5 linked regions of the Homo sapiens genome follow. The protein of the gene in region 5 purifies or fractionates together with the protein of the main gene of each other region. This does not show direct contact. Each region holds a gene or a part of one and is shown on either strand. Other genes may lie near its edges.

The links.
Region 1: the proteins of SLC6A2 (region 5) and NUDT4 purify together in Homo sapiens (affinity purification with mass spectrometry, with the first as the bait; one large-scale study listed by BioGRID). This does not show direct contact.
Region 2: the proteins of SLC6A2 (region 5) and UBTD1 purify together in Homo sapiens (affinity purification with mass spectrometry; one large-scale study listed by BioGRID and IntAct). This does not show direct contact.
Region 3: the proteins of SLC6A2 (region 5) and APMAP purify together in Homo sapiens (affinity purification with mass spectrometry; one large-scale study listed by BioGRID and IntAct). This does not show direct contact.
Region 4: the proteins of SLC6A2 (region 5) and NUP210 purify together in Homo sapiens (affinity purification with mass spectrometry; one large-scale study listed by BioGRID and IntAct). This does not show direct contact.

What each region holds. Positions count from the first base shown.
Region 1 is NC_000012.12:93,401,906-93,405,285, forward strand, and holds part of NUDT4 (diphosphoinositol polyphosphate phosphohydrolase 2), read left to right. Parts: 3' UTR 1-3,380. UniProt on the Homo sapiens protein: Cleaves a beta-phosphate from the diphosphate groups in PP-InsP5 (diphosphoinositol pentakisphosphate), PP-InsP4 and [PP]2-InsP4 (bisdiphosphoinositol tetrakisphosphate), suggesting that it may play a role in signal transduction.
Region 2 is NC_000010.11:97,501,917-97,505,435, reverse strand, and holds part of UBTD1 (ubiquitin domain-containing protein 1), read right to left. Parts: intron 1-3,519. UniProt on the Homo sapiens protein: May be involved in the regulation of cellular senescence through a positive feedback loop with TP53. Is a TP53 downstream target gene that increases the stability of TP53 protein by promoting the ubiquitination and degradation of MDM2.
Region 3 is NC_000020.11:24,989,951-24,994,120, reverse strand, and holds the start of APMAP (adipocyte plasma membrane-associated protein), read left to right. Parts: upstream 1-1,369; 5' UTR 1,370-1,432; coding exon 1,433-1,527; intron 1,528-4,170. UniProt on the Homo sapiens protein: Exhibits strong arylesterase activity with beta-naphthyl acetate and phenyl acetate. May play a role in adipocyte differentiation.
Region 4 is NC_000003.12:13,319,310-13,322,828, reverse strand, and holds part of NUP210 (nuclear pore membrane glycoprotein 210 precursor), read left to right. Parts: intron 1-489; coding exon 490-636; intron 637-993; coding exon 994-1,244; intron 1,245-2,849; coding exon 2,850-3,066; intron 3,067-3,503; coding exon 3,504-3,519. UniProt on the Homo sapiens protein: Nucleoporin essential for nuclear pore assembly and fusion, nuclear pore spacing, as well as structural integrity.
Region 5 is NC_000016.10:55,654,694-55,658,787, forward strand, and holds the start of SLC6A2 (sodium-dependent noradrenaline transporter), read left to right. Parts: upstream 1-1,294; 5' UTR 1,295-1,476; intron 1,477-1,560; exon of another isoform or gene 1,561-1,659; intron 1,660-1,746; exon of another isoform or gene 1,747-1,950; 5' UTR 1,951-2,001; coding exon 2,002-2,275; intron 2,276-4,094. UniProt on the Homo sapiens protein: Mediates sodium- and chloride-dependent transport of norepinephrine (also known as noradrenaline), the primary signaling neurotransmitter in the autonomic sympathetic nervous system.

The sequences.
Region 1 (3,380 bases), on a different chromosome or scaffold from region 5:
GGGACTGTCATTTGTGATTTTTTTTTTTTTTTTTTGGTGGGGTAGTTGAATAAAATTGGGCAGCTAAATTTTTCAGTTCCATGTGCCTCCCAAATAAAAAACAGAAAATAAGTAGTTTTTGTGAATTGACTTGCAGACAAAGTAGAAACTGTGCTGCATGATGTTATTTTGTAAACAGATGACATTTTCTGACCAGGCACATGCCATCCAATTTTCTGTCAATCACACTGTTGTATAAAGCAGCAGAACTGAAGGGGAAAAATGATTGTTGTATACACTGAATTGCTTTGCATGGTCTCATTTGAGATAATTGATGTAAGAATCCTGACTTTTTTATATTTGGAAACATCAAATAAAAATGGAAAAAATGATCATGGCTTTAAAAAAAAAACAAAAACACACACACATGAACTCAGATTTGCAAACCAGGTTTCTGAAACTTTGGGTAAGGTGTATGCTTTTAACTTTGAAATGTATAAACACCCAGCGGAAACGTATACCTTTCAGTGCATAGTGCATTGTGTGCTTACCCTGGGTTGTTTAAACTTGTGTTCAAATATTCCCCCTCCAAGTGAAAGCCTGTCGGGAATTCCACAGTAACACCTTTACTGTTCTCCCATTGATGATCATATACGTTACCTCTTCCTAGCGGTACATTTGTATGATCCTTACTACTGGAATTACCGGGTTAAAAGGAAATGCTTACCACTAAGATGTCAGTATTCTCCTCATGGATATTTTCAGTCTCAATGTTGCCAGTCTAATAGTATAGTATGTGGTTGCTTTACTGCTGTTCTCCCCACCCCCGTGGAGTTGTGTCATTATTTTAATGAATGTGAGCTCTTGACTTACTCTAGAATTCTAATACAGATACTTTCTGCACTAGTATCACTTTTATTATTGCAGTTCCATTTAAAAGCATAACTGGCTAAGTCACCGCCCCACCCGCCGCATTACATTTCCTAAAACATACTGCTGCCAAAGACCAACTGTAGAATCCTTAAGTCCTGTTCAAGTGTCACTTCATTTTTTATTAGGGGTTTCTTAGTTGGAGGGCATGAGAAACTTGGCCCTTTCCAATGTTGTCTTCACATTGGAGTATAAGAATTCTCTATAGGACTCTTTAATTTTTTTTTTTTTTTGGTAGAGATGGGGTCTTGCTGTGTTGCCCAGGCTGGTCTCAAACTCCTAGGCTTAAGCAGTCCTCCAGCCTCAGCCTTCTCAAAGTGCTAGGATGATTGGCATGAGCCACCTCGTCTGGCCTGCAGGTCTTTTTAAGCATTTGCTGTTCAATAATAAGCATCTTCTTTATGCCTAGTATTTGTGATAAGAGCACAAAACAATTTTCTAATCTCAAAGAGCTTATATTCTAGTGGGGTAGAGATAAGTGATTTATCTTGGTGTAGTTTTGGCTTTTTTGTTTGTTTTTTTGAGACAGCATCTCACACTGTCGCCCAGGCTGGAGTGCAGTGGTGCAATCTCAGCTTACTGTAACCTCCGCCTGCCAGGTTCAAGCGATTCTCCTGCCTCATCCTCCCGAGGAGCTGGGATCACAGGCGCCTGCCACCACGCCCGGCTAATTTTTTTGTATTTTTAGTAGAGACGGGGTTTCACCATATTGGCCAGGCTGGTCTCAAACTCCTGACCTCGTGATCCGCCTGCCTCGGCCTCCCTAAGTGCTGGGATTATGGGCGTGAACCACCGCACCTGGCCTATCTTGGTGTTTTTACATCCTTCAGTATTTTTCAAGGTTTTACAGCTTTTTTATCTATAGACTTATACCATCTTCAAAAGCAATACAATTTTATTTGTAGACGTGATTTCCCCCACCAAATGCACATTTTATGGAGCTCTAGGACAAAAGTCAGGATGAAAAGTAATCTATCGCTGGTGCTACTTTAATACCTTCCTGACTGGTGCCACTGGCTAAATTCTAGCAGTACGATGAGAGGGCCATTAAGGCCTATCTTAGCAAGCAAGACATTATAGCAAAGACCTAAACACTCAAAGGTTCAACGTCTTCTAGCCAGGGAACTATTCTCTAATTCTTCCACCTTGATATGATTTCAGCAAATTCTGATAACCCGGTATTACTCTTAATGCATTTTTGTAACATTTGACAAACATCTCCCAATATGTAGACTCCCACTCTCCTGATGCTAATCAGTATCAGACAATGGAAGTAAATTTTCCTGCTTTTCTCAACTTTTCCTCAAATTCATGTTAGTGAAGTACTTTCATTTGGCCATCATTATTTATCAACCTTAAGAAACATGCCTATTGACGAAGTAAATATACTAGGAATTCAACGTATCTACGGGAATGTGGACAAAGACATATACCAAGACAAGGCACTAGAGTGAAAAGCCATTAAAATAAAATGCTCAGCAGCAAAGGATTTGTAATGGTTAACTTGCAATATATCCATATGGTGTAATATTACAGTCATTAGAAATGACATTTGCGTAAGGATCTGAGTGGAAACTGATACAGCCTGTCGGAGAGCTACTGAGTAGTATTTTATCACAGCTGCATACATACCCTTTCACCCAACAGTTCCACTCCTGGGAGTCTAGTCAACAAATGGACAAGTTGCACAACCAAGCTATGGTCAAATATGTGTGTTGTAGGATTTATGAAACTGGTACCAATTTAATATTCAAATGTGATTAAGTCATGGCAATCTATTTACTGGATACTTTGTGGTTACCAAAGAGCTATGTGCTGCCACAGGGAGTCCTTTCAATAGTGATTGAAAAAGGCAGAACACTACTAGACAGAACTACCTGTTTTATGCATGTATTGGCATACACTGAAAAAGCTTAGTCACTTAAAATGAGGTTGTACAGATTGTAGATTTTGTTTTTAAACGCCTGTATGGTTTAAAAAATGTTTTGGGAAATAGACATGAGCAGGGCAGAGAACTACAACCTACAGGCCAAACCCCACCCCACTGCCTGTTTGTACGGCCAACAAGTTTAAAATTTTTTTAATGTTTTAGGTTTTTTTTTTTTTAAAAAAAATACTATGCCCATTTGTTTACAAATCGTCTGTGGGTGCTTTCTCACTACAATGGCAGAATTCAGTAGTTGAGACAGACCTATGGTCCACAAAGGCCGAAATATTTACTGTTTTAGGAGAAAAAAACAACATGAATTGTAATAACTTGGACTTACTTGGTTGCTCAGTCCTGATGTGTCCTGTTAAAACCTAAGAGAAACAGCACCAAGTTCAATCTAGTGCAATCAGCCTATCACATCTAAGCTGCTTTTGCCAGATCTGATATCTACTCCCGACCTTAAGCCAGGAGACTTTGTAAACTTACTAGGTTATAATAAAACTTAAGAACTATCGATATTTACTAATCTACATCATGGAAC
Region 2 (3,519 bases), on a different chromosome or scaffold from region 5:
CACTCAAGAAAGTGGCAGAGACTAGACCTCCTCTCCTTTGAATACACTTGACCTCAACCACTTCCCTATAATATCTTGACCTCCACACACTCACAACTTAAAGGAGCACATGCAGTTTTTATGTAGGTTGCACCATGTTTCTGTGAACTAGGCAGGGGACAGACATACCTTTGTTCTCTTTCTAATGGCTGGGTAAGAAAAAAGAGGTTATAGAAATCTTTAGGTTCCTTTTCAGCTCTAAAATTCTATGATTCTAAAAATTCTCCAGCAAGTTGATGGGTAAGAGATGCCTGGAATCCACATCACCTAACTTCCTCCCTTGTAGTCTATTAGGCCACCCTATCCCTGCCCTGCGAGTTAAGGACTACAAACATCACGTGTGCCTGGAAGAGGGGGGTCCACTCTGACATAGGTGCACACATAAAATGGCAAGAAGGTGCTACTGCCTGGTTAGGACCCCAATAGTGAGCTTCACTTTGCCCTCCTGCTTCAGCCCTGGTATCTCCCAGCAAGAGGCACCCAAACCACAGGAGTCATATATATCCCAGGTATCTAAGAACTTACGCAAGCCTGGGGCAAGAGAGAAGCCAGTCCCAGAGATAGAACACCACTCTGAGGTTGCAGTTTAAGTCCCTTCATTAAGATACCTGCCTTAACACCCATCTAAGGTAGGAGATCAATCAGACGTGTTCACTTATGCTTTTCTATAGACTTCACCAACTCTAGTTTTATCCAACAACTATTTACCAGGCACTGCTCTTGGTATCACAGAGTGAACAAATAAAAATCTCTGACAACATGGAGCAAGGGGAGACAACCAATATCAGAGGATGACATAAGCAATGGAACAAAATAAAACAGGAAAGGGAGGTACATAATGCCGAGAGCAGGTGATAGAGGGAAGGGGATAATTTTAAATGAAATGGCCTGGGAGGGTTTGATTCCTTAAATAGGAGACTGGGACAAGGAGAGAGAGGGACCCATTCAGATATCGGGGGGTTGAACAAGGTGATGGAGAGCATGAGATGGCTTAAGAAAGGTGAGCAGGTGAAAATCATATCATATCTTGTAGACCAACACAAGAAGTCTTGAATGAGATGCAGTGTCACAGGAGGCTTGAGCAAAGGAGTAATGAAATCTGACTTACAGTTTAGAGTATCACGCTGGCTAGTGGGATGGAAATAGTCTGTCGGGAGACAAGGGAGGAAGCAGGAAGGTGAGTTCACAGGCCAGTGGTAGCTCAGACCAGGGTGAAAGTGGTGGAGATGGTCAGAGTCAGGTTCGGGACATATTTAAGGCAAAACCAACAGGATTTATTGATTAAATGGATGTGAAGTGTGAGAGAAAGGGAGAAGTCAGGGACGACGAGAATTTTAGGGGCCTTGGCAAGCGGAAGGATGAAATCATCATGAACTGGGATGGGAAAGACTTTGGGAGGTACAGGGATGGGATGGGGGTTCATTCTGTTTTGGACACGTTAAACTAGGAAGCCTTTTAGACAGCAGGTGTGGTGAGCAGGCAGCAGAATATCCAAGGCTGAAGTTGCAGAGAATGGGCTGAAATTATAAATGTGGGAGGAGTCACCAGCATATATAATACTACATAATTCTATGTATGATCATGTGTAATTTGCATGACTATGTGTTTACTGTCTGCCCCCTACAAGACTGTAAGCTCCATGTGGCCAAGGACCACGTCTGTTCACAGCCAGCAGGGTGCTTGGCACTCAGTACATACTTACTGAGCAAATGGAGAAGTTGCCCAATTACTCCCTCAAGAATAGCCACACAGCCCACACAAGAAGCAGACTCTCTTGCAACCACAGTGCCAAGCCCAACCAGCCCCAAACAGGGCCCTGGGTCTGTCCACCCCGAGCTTGAGATTCCAGAACGTAAGTGGATATGCCTGGCACATCACAGAGTCAGATATTTGGGTTTCAGCCCTGCCACATTCTCAAAGGGTGGAGCTGGGCAAGAGACTTGCCTGTTCTACCACCTCTACCTCTCCCTGGAGTGGCTGGGGGAGAGGCTGCTTCACCCAGTTCATGGGCAGAGATATTTATCTACCTAGTGTACATGTATGGGGTGGCAAGAGCCCCCACCAAAGGAGTAAATCCCCAAGTATTCTCCGAAGCATACAAGAACCACCCAGCATCTGAAGGAGAAGAACACAGACCTACTGGGGATGCATTAAGAGTAACAATCCAAAAAAAATTTTTAAGGCTGGGTGTGGCGGCTCACGCCAGTAATCCCAGCACTTTCGGAAGCCAAGATAAGAAGATTACTTGAGGCCAGGAGTTTCAGACCAGCCTGGGCAACATAGCAAGACCCCATCTCTACAAAAAATAAAAAGTTAGCTGGGCGTGGTGGTGCACACCTCTAGCCCTAGCTACTGGGAAGACTGAGGGGAGAGGATCACTTGAGCTCAGGAGTTAAAGGCTGCAGGGAGCTATAACTGCACCACCATACTCCAGCCTGAGCGAGAGAACAAGACCCTCTCTCTCAAAAAAAAAAAAATATATATATACATATATACACACATATATATACGTATATATATACATATATACGTATATATACGTATATATGTATACACACATACGCACACACACACATATGAGTGACAATCACAAAACTTGATGAGACGAGAGGACCTCTCCCTTCTCCCTAATGCAAGAATCCCTGACCAGACAGTATTGTGTCTCTGCTTTGTCTACCAAGTGACTAAGAAGGCAGAACTAAGGACAAAGGGTGACATTACAAGCCATAAAGATTTCACCTCAATAACTTTCTCGCTTTAAACAGCTGCCTTTGTGAAGATGATAAAACAGCTCTAATGATCTTGTATAACCCTCCCCCTTTCTGAAATATTGAAAGTGTGACCCAGAAAGGTTAGATGACTTGCCCAGGGTCACTGAGTTATAGGCCCAGGACTAGAACTCAGGTCCTAGCTCCCTGTTGAGGCTTTCTTCCCATTACATTAGTGCCAAAGGAAGGTAAGAGTTACAGTGGCGCTGGGGGAGTTTTAGGCATTAGTCTTACAACGTAAAACTATGTCCTTGTCAAAGGAAAAGCCACAGATGTTACAGGAATGCCAGGTGCACTGTGGAGTTAAGAAGGATTCCTTCCCTTGTACCAAATTTGTCATCCTACAGAGTTCCCCTCGGCTTTGGACTTTATGAATAAAGCTATTCATAGTAGGACCCACAGAACTAAAGCAATGATAAACTAGCAGGTAAAAAAAAAAATGCAGATATATGAAAAATGCAGATGGTAGGATGAAGTTGAGTTTGCTTTCTAAAATCAACAAATACTGAGTGCTACTTCTGTACAACTCATTGTGTTAAGTGCTGAATGTGTGTGTGTGCGTGAGAGAGACATATACTACAAGGATAAGACAGAACCCAGGTCTTCAAGGCTTGCAATGTAGTTGCTGATAAAAGACTGTAAACATCAAAGACATGATTAATAATACAGAGTACATAATTGTTAAGTAAGTGGCATAGATAATGTGTCTGCA
Region 3 (4,170 bases), on a different chromosome or scaffold from region 5:
GACATGTTAAGCCATCCTGAATGTCTGAAATGGGGGGTGGGGAGCAAGAGGGATAGTCCAGACAGGCAGGAAGGCGTGAGATCATACAGTACTTTGTTAACACTATCCCTGATTTAATAGCTGTATTGGCTATTCTCAATGACACAGAATGAAGTAAAATGTTGTCGAGGCCTGAATTATTACCTGGGATCTCTGGAGAACTGGATTTGCACAGCTCTCCACTTCCCTCAAGCTGGTTCTTCCGCTCTTTGAATGAATAAATAAAAAGCATTCACATGGAATTCTAGTGCCATCTAGCATTTAAAAAGGTAAAAGCCTCCAAGAGGAAATTATTTCTTAACACTGCATTTTGAACATGGCTTTTCCAGAGATAATTCCTCGTGCCACTGGTAACGGGCTTTGATTTCTTCTGCCTGTCACTTCCTCCAGATTCGATTCCTCTTTGAATCTCAAATGCTCTCACAAGATTCAGCTCTTCCCTTTTGAAGCAATTATTACGTTTGATAATTTTACGTCTATTTTATGATGATGATCTGATTAAAGTCATCTTTCCCACTAGTTTAATTTCTATAAGGAGGGGCCTTGTCTGTGATTTGCCCACCATCGTCTCCCAGCACCTGGGAACATTTCTGGTTTCCTGCAATACTGTTGAAAGAACAATGCCTCTCTATGCTTTCTTAAACTTTGTTAGTGATAATTTCTACTTCTACCTGGACTTTACTTAAGGGTAATCCTTAATAAACTTTATCAAAACTTAATAAACTTTATCAAAACTTAATAAACTTTATCAAATGTCTGTTGTAATCGTCACAAAAAGATTTAATACTCAACATCTGGCCTTAACCAGAGGGAAACATTTTCTAGCCCAAGTTTTCCCCTTAACCGGCTGAGTCGGGGAAGGATGTAATTTTCAGGCAGAGGTGACTTCGTTCCAAGGGTGTGAATGCATTATTTTTGACGCTGCCTGTAAGAGCAGGGTCGCTGACACTGAATAAACAGCGCTATCCTCTCCAACGATAAAAGTGGCCAACATCTCGTGCTAGCAATTCCCAAGTGCGTCATGAGCATCCCCGTCCTCAGAAACGTGAGACGAAGGCGGCATGCGCAGGCACTGGGCTAGACGAGCCCGAGGTTGAACCACTCGCGTTCTGGGCCCCGGAGTCCGAGACAGGCGGGGACCCCGGCAGCTCCCGGTGCTATCTCTGAGCGGGTTCCGAGCCCCACTTCCGGGCGGTCAGAATTAGCCTCAGAGCGCCGAGCAACGACGCGCCGGGGACCTCCCGCCCATGAGGCCGGAAGGGGCGGGGAGAACGCTGCGGAATGGTCCCTGGGCGCAACGTCATTTCCGCGTACGGGGGAGGGCGGGCCTGGAGTCTGAGCCGGCGCCGCTCAGTGTGAGGTGGTTTCTGCGGGTGAGGCTGGCGCCCGTACCATGAGCGAGGCGGACGGGCTGCGACAGCGCCGGCCCCTGCGGCCGCAGGTCGTCACAGACGATGATGGCCAGGCCCCGGAGGCTAAGGACGGCAGGTAGGGCGGACTCCCAGACTGGGCGCTGGAGCCGGGCCGCTAGGAGTGGAGGGCGACCCTCTTGGACAGCGGCGACGGCAGTAACAGTAACCTGGGGATGCGGTGCCGAGCGCGTTGTCAGAGTCCTCTCGTTTCATCCCCAAGAAAAACTCATTTTTCCGAGGAAGCAGGCTCCGACAAGGCGGATGTACCTGCCAGGTCTTTCAGGTTCGGGTGCACCCTGCGCCCAGTCGCCGCGTTGTCCTCGGCTCTCCGGACCCGAGACCGCCTCGCGCCGCTCCTTTGCCTTCCCTCCCTCACTCCTGCCCCACCCTGCATAGCGGTTGCTTCCTCGCCTTTCCCTCGCTCCCCTCGCGCTGTCCTTCCTTTGGCTTAAATGATCCCCCTGAGCACAGCTACTTGGCCGGGGCCCTGCGTGTTCCTGGTTCCCCGCTCGCAATTTCCCGAAGGGAGGAGGTCCCACGAGATGCTGGGGTCCTGCCTCGTTATCCGGCGAAGAGATGGCTTCTACACTTGCTCTTCTGCACCTGCCCCCCTCACGCTGCGTGACCAGTCCTCACCGCGGTTCTTGGAAAGAGTGGAGAACAGTAGTGACATTGTAGGCAATTTTTGTGAGAATTCAGCCTGGCAGTTTTTCCTGATAGGGATGGAGAAACATAGGAAACTGTAGTTGTTGACACCTAAGAAATATCAGGTTTTGCCCTTTGCCTCCTCTCCCATCTTTCAGAATATAAGAATGCTGTGTTTTGTTAGCTAAAAACTGAATCATGATTCGTAAGCATAGATTTCAATATAAGATACTTAAAATTCACTTTTCAATTCTGTGTCCTGAATTTCATAACTTTTAAGTTTCAGGGAGAATCAAGAGGCCCCATAGACCAAGCTTGAAGTTGTGGGACTGATTGACTTATATTTGATAGAAATACTGGAAATATTTGTTCATCAGTAGTGTGCCAAGAGGTGGTGGGGTACATATGAATGAGAGGCAGTTTTTGCCCCTGTAGACTGAGTTTATTGACTGATGATAAGAGGAACACATTTGAAGGAGAGCGATGGCAGGAAGGAGCATTTAGGCTCTAGAGAGGCAATTTAGAGAGAAGACTTTGCGGTGATAGTTGACTCCTTGGGCCAGTGAAAAGATCGGGAAGATGCTCCCATATATCCTGACCAACCATCCTGCGTTGCCCTGGACTGGGGTTTCCAAGGATGTAGAACTTTCAGTGCTAAACCTGGGCAAACTGGGACAATCTGATCACCCTACTTACTGTGAATATTGTGAATTAATCATCTGTTGATGATTGAGGAGCCATTTAGAATGGACATGCAAGAATTGGCAACACTTTCCTACAGAAATCTTGAAAACAAGGCATTTTTACCTGAGAAATGGAAGAGCAGTGGCCTGAGTTTGTCATTAGGTGCAGTGTGTTGAAAACCAGGGCCTACAGCCCCTGAGGGCACCGGTTAGGTAGTCCCAACTCTCAAGTTGGCTGGCTCACACTTCTGGCCCCAGGGCAAGCAGGCAGACTTAATTGTTTTTTTCAGGTTCTCTGTGGGGATTTCTTCCTTAATGAGTAAGTAAATCTGATTCTAAAGTCATCTTTTACTGCCTGATCTTTTCCAGTGTGCCTTTTACATTTATGTTTACTTATTTCCTTGACTTCCCTGTCCATGAACATTGTTCCTGTTTCCCTGTGTTTGTCCTTCTTGTTTGTTTATCCCTTTTCTGTATATCTGTAATGATCTCTTTCAAAGTGAGGTCTTGTCACCACCCTTCCTTTCCGCAATTATTATTGTAACATGGTAGCTGTTTTTCTTATTTTTCTTCTGCATTTCTCCTATATTTTTCATTTATTTTGTGGTCATTTCTAGTAGTTCATGTAATAGTATTCTTGATTACCTTAAAAGTCGAGGGTTCAACATAAGCCAGGAAAGCCTGTGTATAGTGGGCGAAGTAAAGGAATCTAAATTCAGAAGTAAAAACACGAAACTATTAGAATAAACTTTAGCACTTTAGATGTGCTAAATAGAATAAAGGAAGCCTTGAAAGACATATTACTAAACTGACAGAACTAAGACATAGATTTTAGCAGTGGTAGGGACCCCTAGTAATACGTTGGGTGGTCTCCCAACTCTTGGCACAAAAGGTGGGTGTTTGCTTTGTTTTGCTGATGAGATCATTGAGGTCTATGTGTGTGAGGTGGTTTATATGAAGTTACAGAGAATAGAGTCAAAAGAGAAATGAAAATGAATGAAGAAGGATAGAACTGGCAGCTGGACAATGACTGAGAAGTGTATTTTTAAAATTATGCTTTGGAAATAAGACTTTATGCCAAAGCTCTTGAATTACTGTATTTGAAATATAATGGAGAATTTGGTTGGTAAATTCTTTTATTCAGTGTGGAACATAGATGAGCTAAGTACTTTAACATACCGGTGCAAGCTTATAATTATTATTTGACATTGATTTCCCGAAATGCTTTAGAAACTTAATTGTACTCTGTGGAACTATTCCTTTCTGTTTGAAACACAGTTCTATCTAGGAAGAGAACTGTTTAATGTCCATATGTGACTGTTTAGGGATGCAGAATAAATACATTGAGGATTTAATATGTTTCAATACATTAAATTCTGTATAATTCTCCT
Region 4 (3,519 bases), on a different chromosome or scaffold from region 5:
AGTGAAGCACCGCCCTTCTCGTCCTGATTAACGAGGCAGCTCTGTTCCATCATGGCAGCCTCTGCTCCTTCCTCAGCGCAAGTGGACAGCACTGTGCCGTTGCCTAAATGCTGCTCAGATGTTAGTGGAGAACTAGTGCCCTCTGAATGTGCAGAAGTAAATTGCCGTTTCCCCTGCTGACAGGGACAGAAGACAGGCATTAGTGGGCCTAGCCCGTCTGCCGTGCCCCTGGATGCAAGGTCTGGAACAAATGCTGAAATTCTGACTTGAAGCTCCCTGTGATGCCGATGGCATCCTCTTCCATATGATATGTCCTTGGCTTTACCAATCCTGGCTGCATCTCAAAGCTTTGAGCCGCCCTGGGGCCCTGCTGGAAGACATGCAGGGGCAGGTGGCATTTGCAGCCCAGCCAGCCTGTGCAGGCCTGGTGGAATTTGGTGTGGTGGCCATCGGGCCTGGCCCACACCCTCTCGTCTCTCCCCTCTCTAGGCGAGTGCACCCCCACCCAGAGGGAAGTCATCCAGGCCTTGCACCCAGAGACCCTCATCAGCTGCCAGTCCCAGTTCAAGCCGGCCGTCTTTGATTTCCCATCTCAAGATGTGTTCACCGTGGAGCCACAGTTTGACACTGCTCTCGGTAATTGCGAGGATTTGAAAGTGAAAGGGACTTGGAGACAGTCTCTGTCTTCTGGGCATCTTGCGGCTTCCACGTGCCCAGCTCACCATGGCCGTCTGTCCAGAGGGCAGAGATTGTCAGGAGCCCAGCCTGGGGATTGACGCCAGGGGGACTTGGGAGGACTGCTGGTCACAGAGGGTATCCTAGCTTGGCCAAGGCCTTTATAGGGGATTCCCAGGAGGACTCCTGGAGGAGGTGACTTCTCACCTGGGCTTTGGAGGATGCATAGGAATCCCCTGGTTAGAGAAGCAGGGAGAAGAAATGACATCAGTGCACGGGCAGGAGAGGGGACAAGACAATACACCCTTGTCTTCGCAGGCCAGTACTTCTGCTCAATCACAATGCACAGGCTGACGGACAAGCAGCGGAAGCACCTGAGCATGAAGAAGACAGCTCTGGTGGTCAGTGCCTCCCTCTCCAGCAGCCACTTCTCCACAGAGCAGGTGGGGGCCGAGGTGCCCTTCAGCCCAGGTCTCTTCGCCGACCAGGCTGAAATCCTTTTGAGCAACCACTACACCAGTTCCGAGATCAGGGTCTTTGGTGCCCCGGAGGTTCTGGAGAACTTGGAGGTGAGTGGCATCTGCATGCCTCAGGCCAGGCCGGAGTCAGGGGCATCAGGAAGGCCCTGGAGGAAGAGGGAATGTGGTGTGGATGTCCTGGGCCAGCTCTCTTTAAAATTTATTTTTACAATTAGAATTTTTAAATTGAAGTACTCTTTTCTTTTTCCATAGCACTGTTGCTGTCTCTCAGGCTGCGTGATTGTATTAATTGTTCTGACCGCTGCTGGTCTTCCCCAGCTACAAGTTAAGCTTGTGGGGGCAGCAGTGAGAACCCCAGAAAAGGTGCCAGTGAGCGTGTGGTGCGTGGCATCGCAGAATTCAGTGCAGGAGCATCTGCCACAGAGCAGGGAGGAAAGCCCTAATCCCTGCTGGGACAAGTCCCCTCTCTCCAGGCCTCACTTCCCCCATGACTAAGTCACGGGGTGGGATTGGTGGGTGAATGATCCCTCAGGCCCAGAGCCTGGCAGGCTGGGAAGAGTTCGGGGGTGAGAGAACCAAGGAGTTCCTCGGCATTTCCGCCTGCTCCTCCTGCCTTGCTGCAGCCAGCGTGATCGCATGTTCTGCAGAGGCAGGGAATGCTCAGCATCGCTGATGAGGGAGGAGGGCCAGCCCGCTGGCGGCGTGAGCAGAGCTCGGGCTGCTACCTTGGAGAGCTGGTGCTTGGTGATACTTCATGTTGGTTTAGCCTTTTTTTTTTTTTTTGAGATGGAGTCTTGCTCTGTCGCCCAGGCTGGAGTGCAGTGGCGCAATCTGGGCTCACTGCAAGTTCTACCTCCCAGGTTCATGCCATTCTCCTACCTCAGCCTCCCAAGTAGCTGGGACTATAGGTGCCTGCCACCACACCTGGCTAATTTTTTTTTAGTAGAGACGGGGTTTCACCATGTTAGCCAGGATGGTCTCGATCTCCTGACCTTGTGATCTGCCCACTTTGGCCTCCCAAAGTTTTTTTTTTTTTTTTTTTGAGACGGAGTCTCGCTCTGTCGCCCAGGTTGGAGTGCAGTGGCACTATCTTGGCTCACTGCAATCTCCACCTCCCGGGTTCATGCCATTCTCCCACCCTTGCCTCCTGAGTAGCTGGGACTACAGGCGCCTGCCACCACATCCGGCTAATTTTTTGTTTTTTTAATAGAGACAGGGTCTCACCGTGTTAGCCAGGCTGGTCTCGATCTCCTGACCTCATGATCTGCCCGCCTCAGCCTCCCAAAGTGTTGAGATTACAGGCGTGAGCAACCGCGCCCAGCCTGGTTTAGCCTTTTTGTAAGCAGCAGTTGATTAGAATTAAATGAGCTTGAATTTGATTCTGACATTCATATTGATTTGTCCTTCCCTCAAAAAACACCCTGAGTATGGACAGGGCTTCCCGACTCTGCAGAGTACACGCCGTCCATGAGCAGTGCCCAGGTGTCATTACCTGCCCATGAGATGTGACCTGGGCAGGGGTCCCCACCTGTACCCTTGGGCCCCAGGAGGGAAGCCCAGCATGTCAGGCTGAAGCGGGGGTGCTTCCAGAGATGGCCATGCAGAGCAGCCCTCCCGCCTCGGGGTCCTGAGGCCCCGCTCAGTGGTCCCCCCACTCTGCAGAATGTGCACCCCCAGCTCTGATGTCTCTTCCAGGTGAAATCCGGGTCCCCGGCCGTGCTGGCATTCGCAAAGGAGAAGTCTTTTGGGTGGCCCAGCTTCATCACATACACGGTCGGCGTCTTGGACCCCGCGGCTGGCAGCCAAGGGCCTCTGTCCACTACCCTGACCTTCTCCAGCCCCGTGACCAACCAAGCCATTGCCATCCCAGTGACAGTGGCTTTTGTGGTGGATCGCCGTGGGCCCGGTCCTTGTGAGTCACGGAACGACATCATCTGGGACAGACCAGGATGGGGAGGGACAGGCAGGAGTGGTCCTGGCTATCAGTAGAAACCTGAGGTGTAAGAAATGGAGGAGTCAGAAATGCAGAATGTCCCTCAAAGTGATCGCTGCTCATTGGGGCCATGATGCAGGCTTTAGTTGCCCAGCTTTCCCATCTGTTCTCAACATGGCAGCCACAGGGGCTGTGCCCCTCTGCTCAGCAGCCTGCGCCAGGAGAAGAAGTGCCAGGGTACCAAGAACAGCTGTGGGCCCGGGCCTCCAGCAGGTGGCCTGGCCCTCTGAGACCACCATCCTTACATCTAAGAGGGACCTGTGGACTGCCCTGTAGACGTACAGTAGGGCAGGAACGTGATGGGATGCCACAGTGGGCCTGGTGGTTTTGGTAACTCATCTTCCCATTGATGGCAGATGGAGCCAGCCTCTT
Region 5 (4,094 bases):
ACAACTCAGGCAGAGAAAACAGCAAGTGTAAAGGTCTTGGGGTGGGTTTGAGCTTAGGATGTTTACAGAATGGAAAGGTCAGTGTGGCTGGGCTGATCCAAGCCCCACCCAACCCACTTAGCACGGCCACCTCTCTGAAGCCTCCTTGGATCAACAGGATGCTTCCCTTGCTGATTCAGCTCCACCCTACTTCCACACATCTGTGGTCACAACACATCCTGACCACACTGGGTTGTGATAGACTCTATACACTGGTCTGGGAGCTCCTTGAAGGCAGGGGCTATCTCCTCTCTAGCCAGCACTGTTCACGCACACAGCAGATGATCAGCATCTGCTAAAGGGATTAATACATTAATCAATAGATGAGTGAATGAATGAGAAAACGACTCTCAGGTCCAAATGGCTCACTCCTTTACTTGTCTAATTGTTACCTTCTCAAATTCCCTGACCCCGTATGCAAACTGCAGCCCCACTGTCCCCCCATTCCCTCACCCATCATATAACGTGTGTATTTATTATGTTTCCCGTTTCCTCTGTCTCCGCCAGCAGAATGTAAACTCCATGAGGTCAGGAATCTCCGAGTTATGTTGCGCCAGTGTAATCCAAGAGCCCGGAACAGTGCCTGGCACACAGCGGGCATATGGAAGAACAAATGTGTGAAGGTGTGAATGAATGAATAATTGAAAGAATAAATAGTAGTTCTCAGCCTCACAGAACACGGGTCACAACCTCAAATGACCTGCTACCCTGCCCATAAATAACAGAGATGCAGGAGTAAGTGCTGGGCTGTGACCTGTCAACATGCTAAGCCGCTCAAACAAAACTGCCCAACAGCCCGCTGGCCGCCTATTTGCAGCACTGGGCCCTGAGCCGCACATTCCCATTTCGTTGATAAAGAAACTGACCAGATAGTTTAAGTGGCCTGCTGCGGAAGACAGAGCTGGTGCTGCACCGGTCGCTGCTTCCCCAGTCCTTTTTTGGCCTCCTTTCTGACGCGACGCAGACCCCAGTTCTGGAGAGTCTGTCACTCGCTCCCCGTGGTGGGAGATCAGAGGCCTGGTGTCCTTGGGAGCGGCGAGCGGTGCTCGGCGCAGGATAGAAAGGGAGTGCGCGCCCGAGTCCCCCAGATCCCTGGGAACCCGCGCCACCCTCCCGCCCCTGCCCATCCCCGGCCGCGCTGTCAGTCTCCATTAGCGCTAACAGGCTCCAGACGGAGCGGGCCGGGCGCTGGGTTAATGCAATCGGCGCGTTACCTGGGGCGCAGGCTACATTACCAGCCCGGCCCCCGCCAGGCACGGCCAGAACCAGTCAGCCCGCGCCCTGCCGGCCGCCCCGCGCCTCCAGCTCTTCCCCGGCCCCGCCCGAACGCCACACGGCGGAGCCCAGCCCCAGCCCGCGCCCTAGAGCCTGCCAAGGCGCCGCCGGTCGGGGGCCGGCAGGGCGCAAGGCACCAGGGATCCCCTCGCCGCCGGACACGTGAGTGCGCCCTGAGCGCGGGACAGGGCTAGGTCTGCCTGGGAGGCCCGGGCCGAGACGCGCCAGCAGAGGGCTAGCGAGTTTGTAGTGCAGTGACGTTAAGTGTCCGAGAAGGCTCCTGTGGCTGTTGAAGTGTCGCGGACCTGAGCTGGGGAGGGGGTCGGCACGCTGCCCTCAGCCTCGGTGAGTTCAATCCCAGCCATTTGGGGCAGGCGAGAGTGGGTGAACGAGGAAAAGTGCTGCAGGGTCTTCAGCCGCCCCCAGAGGGCTGTCAGAAGTCTCCAACTCTTGAGTTCCGGCGTGCCCCAACCTCTGTTTCCAAATTTTTCCAGCGGACGCGCGCCCTTTTCTGGGAACCCTGCGTCCGCTCAGCGCGCGCTCATCCCAGTGTCTAAGGCGCTCCCGGGTGGTCTTGGGAGTTGCAAGTAGGGAGGAACGGCCGGGTAACCACCTCTTTTCCCTTTATCCAAGCAGAGCCTCGGCGTGCCCCCAGGACCGGTAAAGTTCCTCTCGCCAGCCGCATCCATGCTTCTGGCGCGGATGAACCCGCAGGTGCAGCCCGAGAACAACGGGGCGGACACGGGTCCAGAGCAGCCCCTTCGGGCGCGCAAAACTGCGGAGCTGCTGGTGGTGAAGGAGCGCAACGGCGTCCAGTGCCTGCTGGCGCCCCGCGACGGCGACGCGCAGCCCCGGGAGACCTGGGGCAAGAAGATCGACTTCCTGCTGTCCGTAGTCGGCTTCGCAGTGGACCTGGCCAACGTGTGGCGCTTCCCCTACCTCTGCTACAAGAACGGCGGCGGTGAGCGTGGGGTCGGGCTGGGAATTTGAATCTGGGAGGTCCACTGTCTGCAGCGGTGGCTGGGACAGGAGCTGGAATACACACGGAAGGGAGGCGAGGAGACAGGGGCAAATCTGGGGCGCAGAAAGAACTGGACAGGGCTAACGGGAAAAAAAAAGATTGGAGTCCTCTGGAAGGTCATTTTCCCAGGCTCTTTGCAGAGTACCTCGAGCTCATTCCAGCGGAAGTGTCAGGATTGGGCACCCTGGAAGCAAAACAGCAGAAGAGTGAAATCGAGTCATGACCCTAAAGTCATGGTAGGGGTATGGATGGAAAGGACAGAATCTGGGGTGCCAGGTTGGGTGGGGGAGCCTGACCTTTTGATGGTCTGCTGGAAGGGAGGTGGAGATTCCAAGAGCTCTTGAAGGGGCACCAGAAGTGGGTGGGATTTGACAACCAGGCCCACAGTGACCCTAAATCTAGCACTCTGAGCCTGGGGGCAGGAACCTTTGGGCCAGAAGCAGTGGGAATACTTCGGTTTTCTGAAGGCACCTGGGGAGGCCCTGTGGTCTTGGGGATAGAAACACACAAGAAGAAGCCAGTATCAGAAATAATGCCATTCTCAGGGAGCACAGCCCAGGTGGAATCAGGCCAGTAGGTGCCAAGAACTGGCCTGGTCCTCAAGGCAGGAGGCCCAGATGATTGGGGTGAAACCTCTACCTCCTCAAGTTCTAGCCGCATTGCAGGGAGGAGTGGGAGAGGGGCCTGAAGAAGACTCCAGTGGAACAGCCACACTCTCTCCCCCTTCTGCTGGATGGTCCAACTGGCCACCTGCCTGAAAATGAGAGCCTAGAGATCACCTACAGCCAATCCAGGAAGAATAACATAGAACCCCGGGCCAGGGAAGCGGTCTGGAAGTCAGGGTGCTGGCCCCCACCCCCTAGCTCCTTCCTGAGGGGCTTTGCTCCTGCCACTTTTGCTGGGATGAGCTCAGAGGTACCCTGCAAAGAGTGTGGGAAAATAGACCTTTTGAGGAAGAAATTGGAGAAGGGGGACCCAGCTCTGAAAGCCTCTCTCTCTCCACTGGGCTGCATTGCTTGGCGGTAGCTGTGACTCTGGACTTAAGGGAGGTCAGAGGGAGGAAGGGCAAGAATTTGGAGCTGGGTAGAGGGAAAGCTCATGACCTGTTCACAGGCTCTAGGACTTACAACTCTGCTTCTATGTGTACTCTGGACACTTGCTTTGGGACGGGCAATACTTGGTGTTTGCAAAAAAGGAGTGGGGCCGGGCATGGTGGCTCATGCCTATAATCCTAGCACTTTGGAAGGACAAAGTGGGCAGATTGCCTGAGCTCAGGAGTTCGAGACCAGCCTGGGCAACATGGTGAGACCTCGTCTCTACTAAAAATACAAAAACTTAGCTGGGCGTAGTGGTGCACGCCTGTAATCCCAGCTACGCAGGAGGCTGAGGCAGGAGAATCACTTGAACCCGGGATGTGGAGGTTGCAGTGAGCCAAGATCACGCCACTGCACTCCAGCCTGGACCATGGGTGACAGAGCAAGACTCTGTCTCAAAAAAAAAAGGAGTGGGATCACCATAGAGCACAGGTGGCTCTGAGCAGAGGATCTTGAGTAAGAAAGCAGTTAGCTCTTCCAACGAGAAAGTTAACCCAAGGTTGGAGCTGACAGATGGAGGTTTGCGTCCATGGTCTCCCTGACACCTCCTGAGATGGGTCTGTCATTGTCAGATACTCTGAGACCAGATAGCTGGAACAGCAGTCCTGAGCTTCAGGGGCATCTGAGGTCTGGGGCCTGATCCGTGGGGAAACAACTTGTGACTC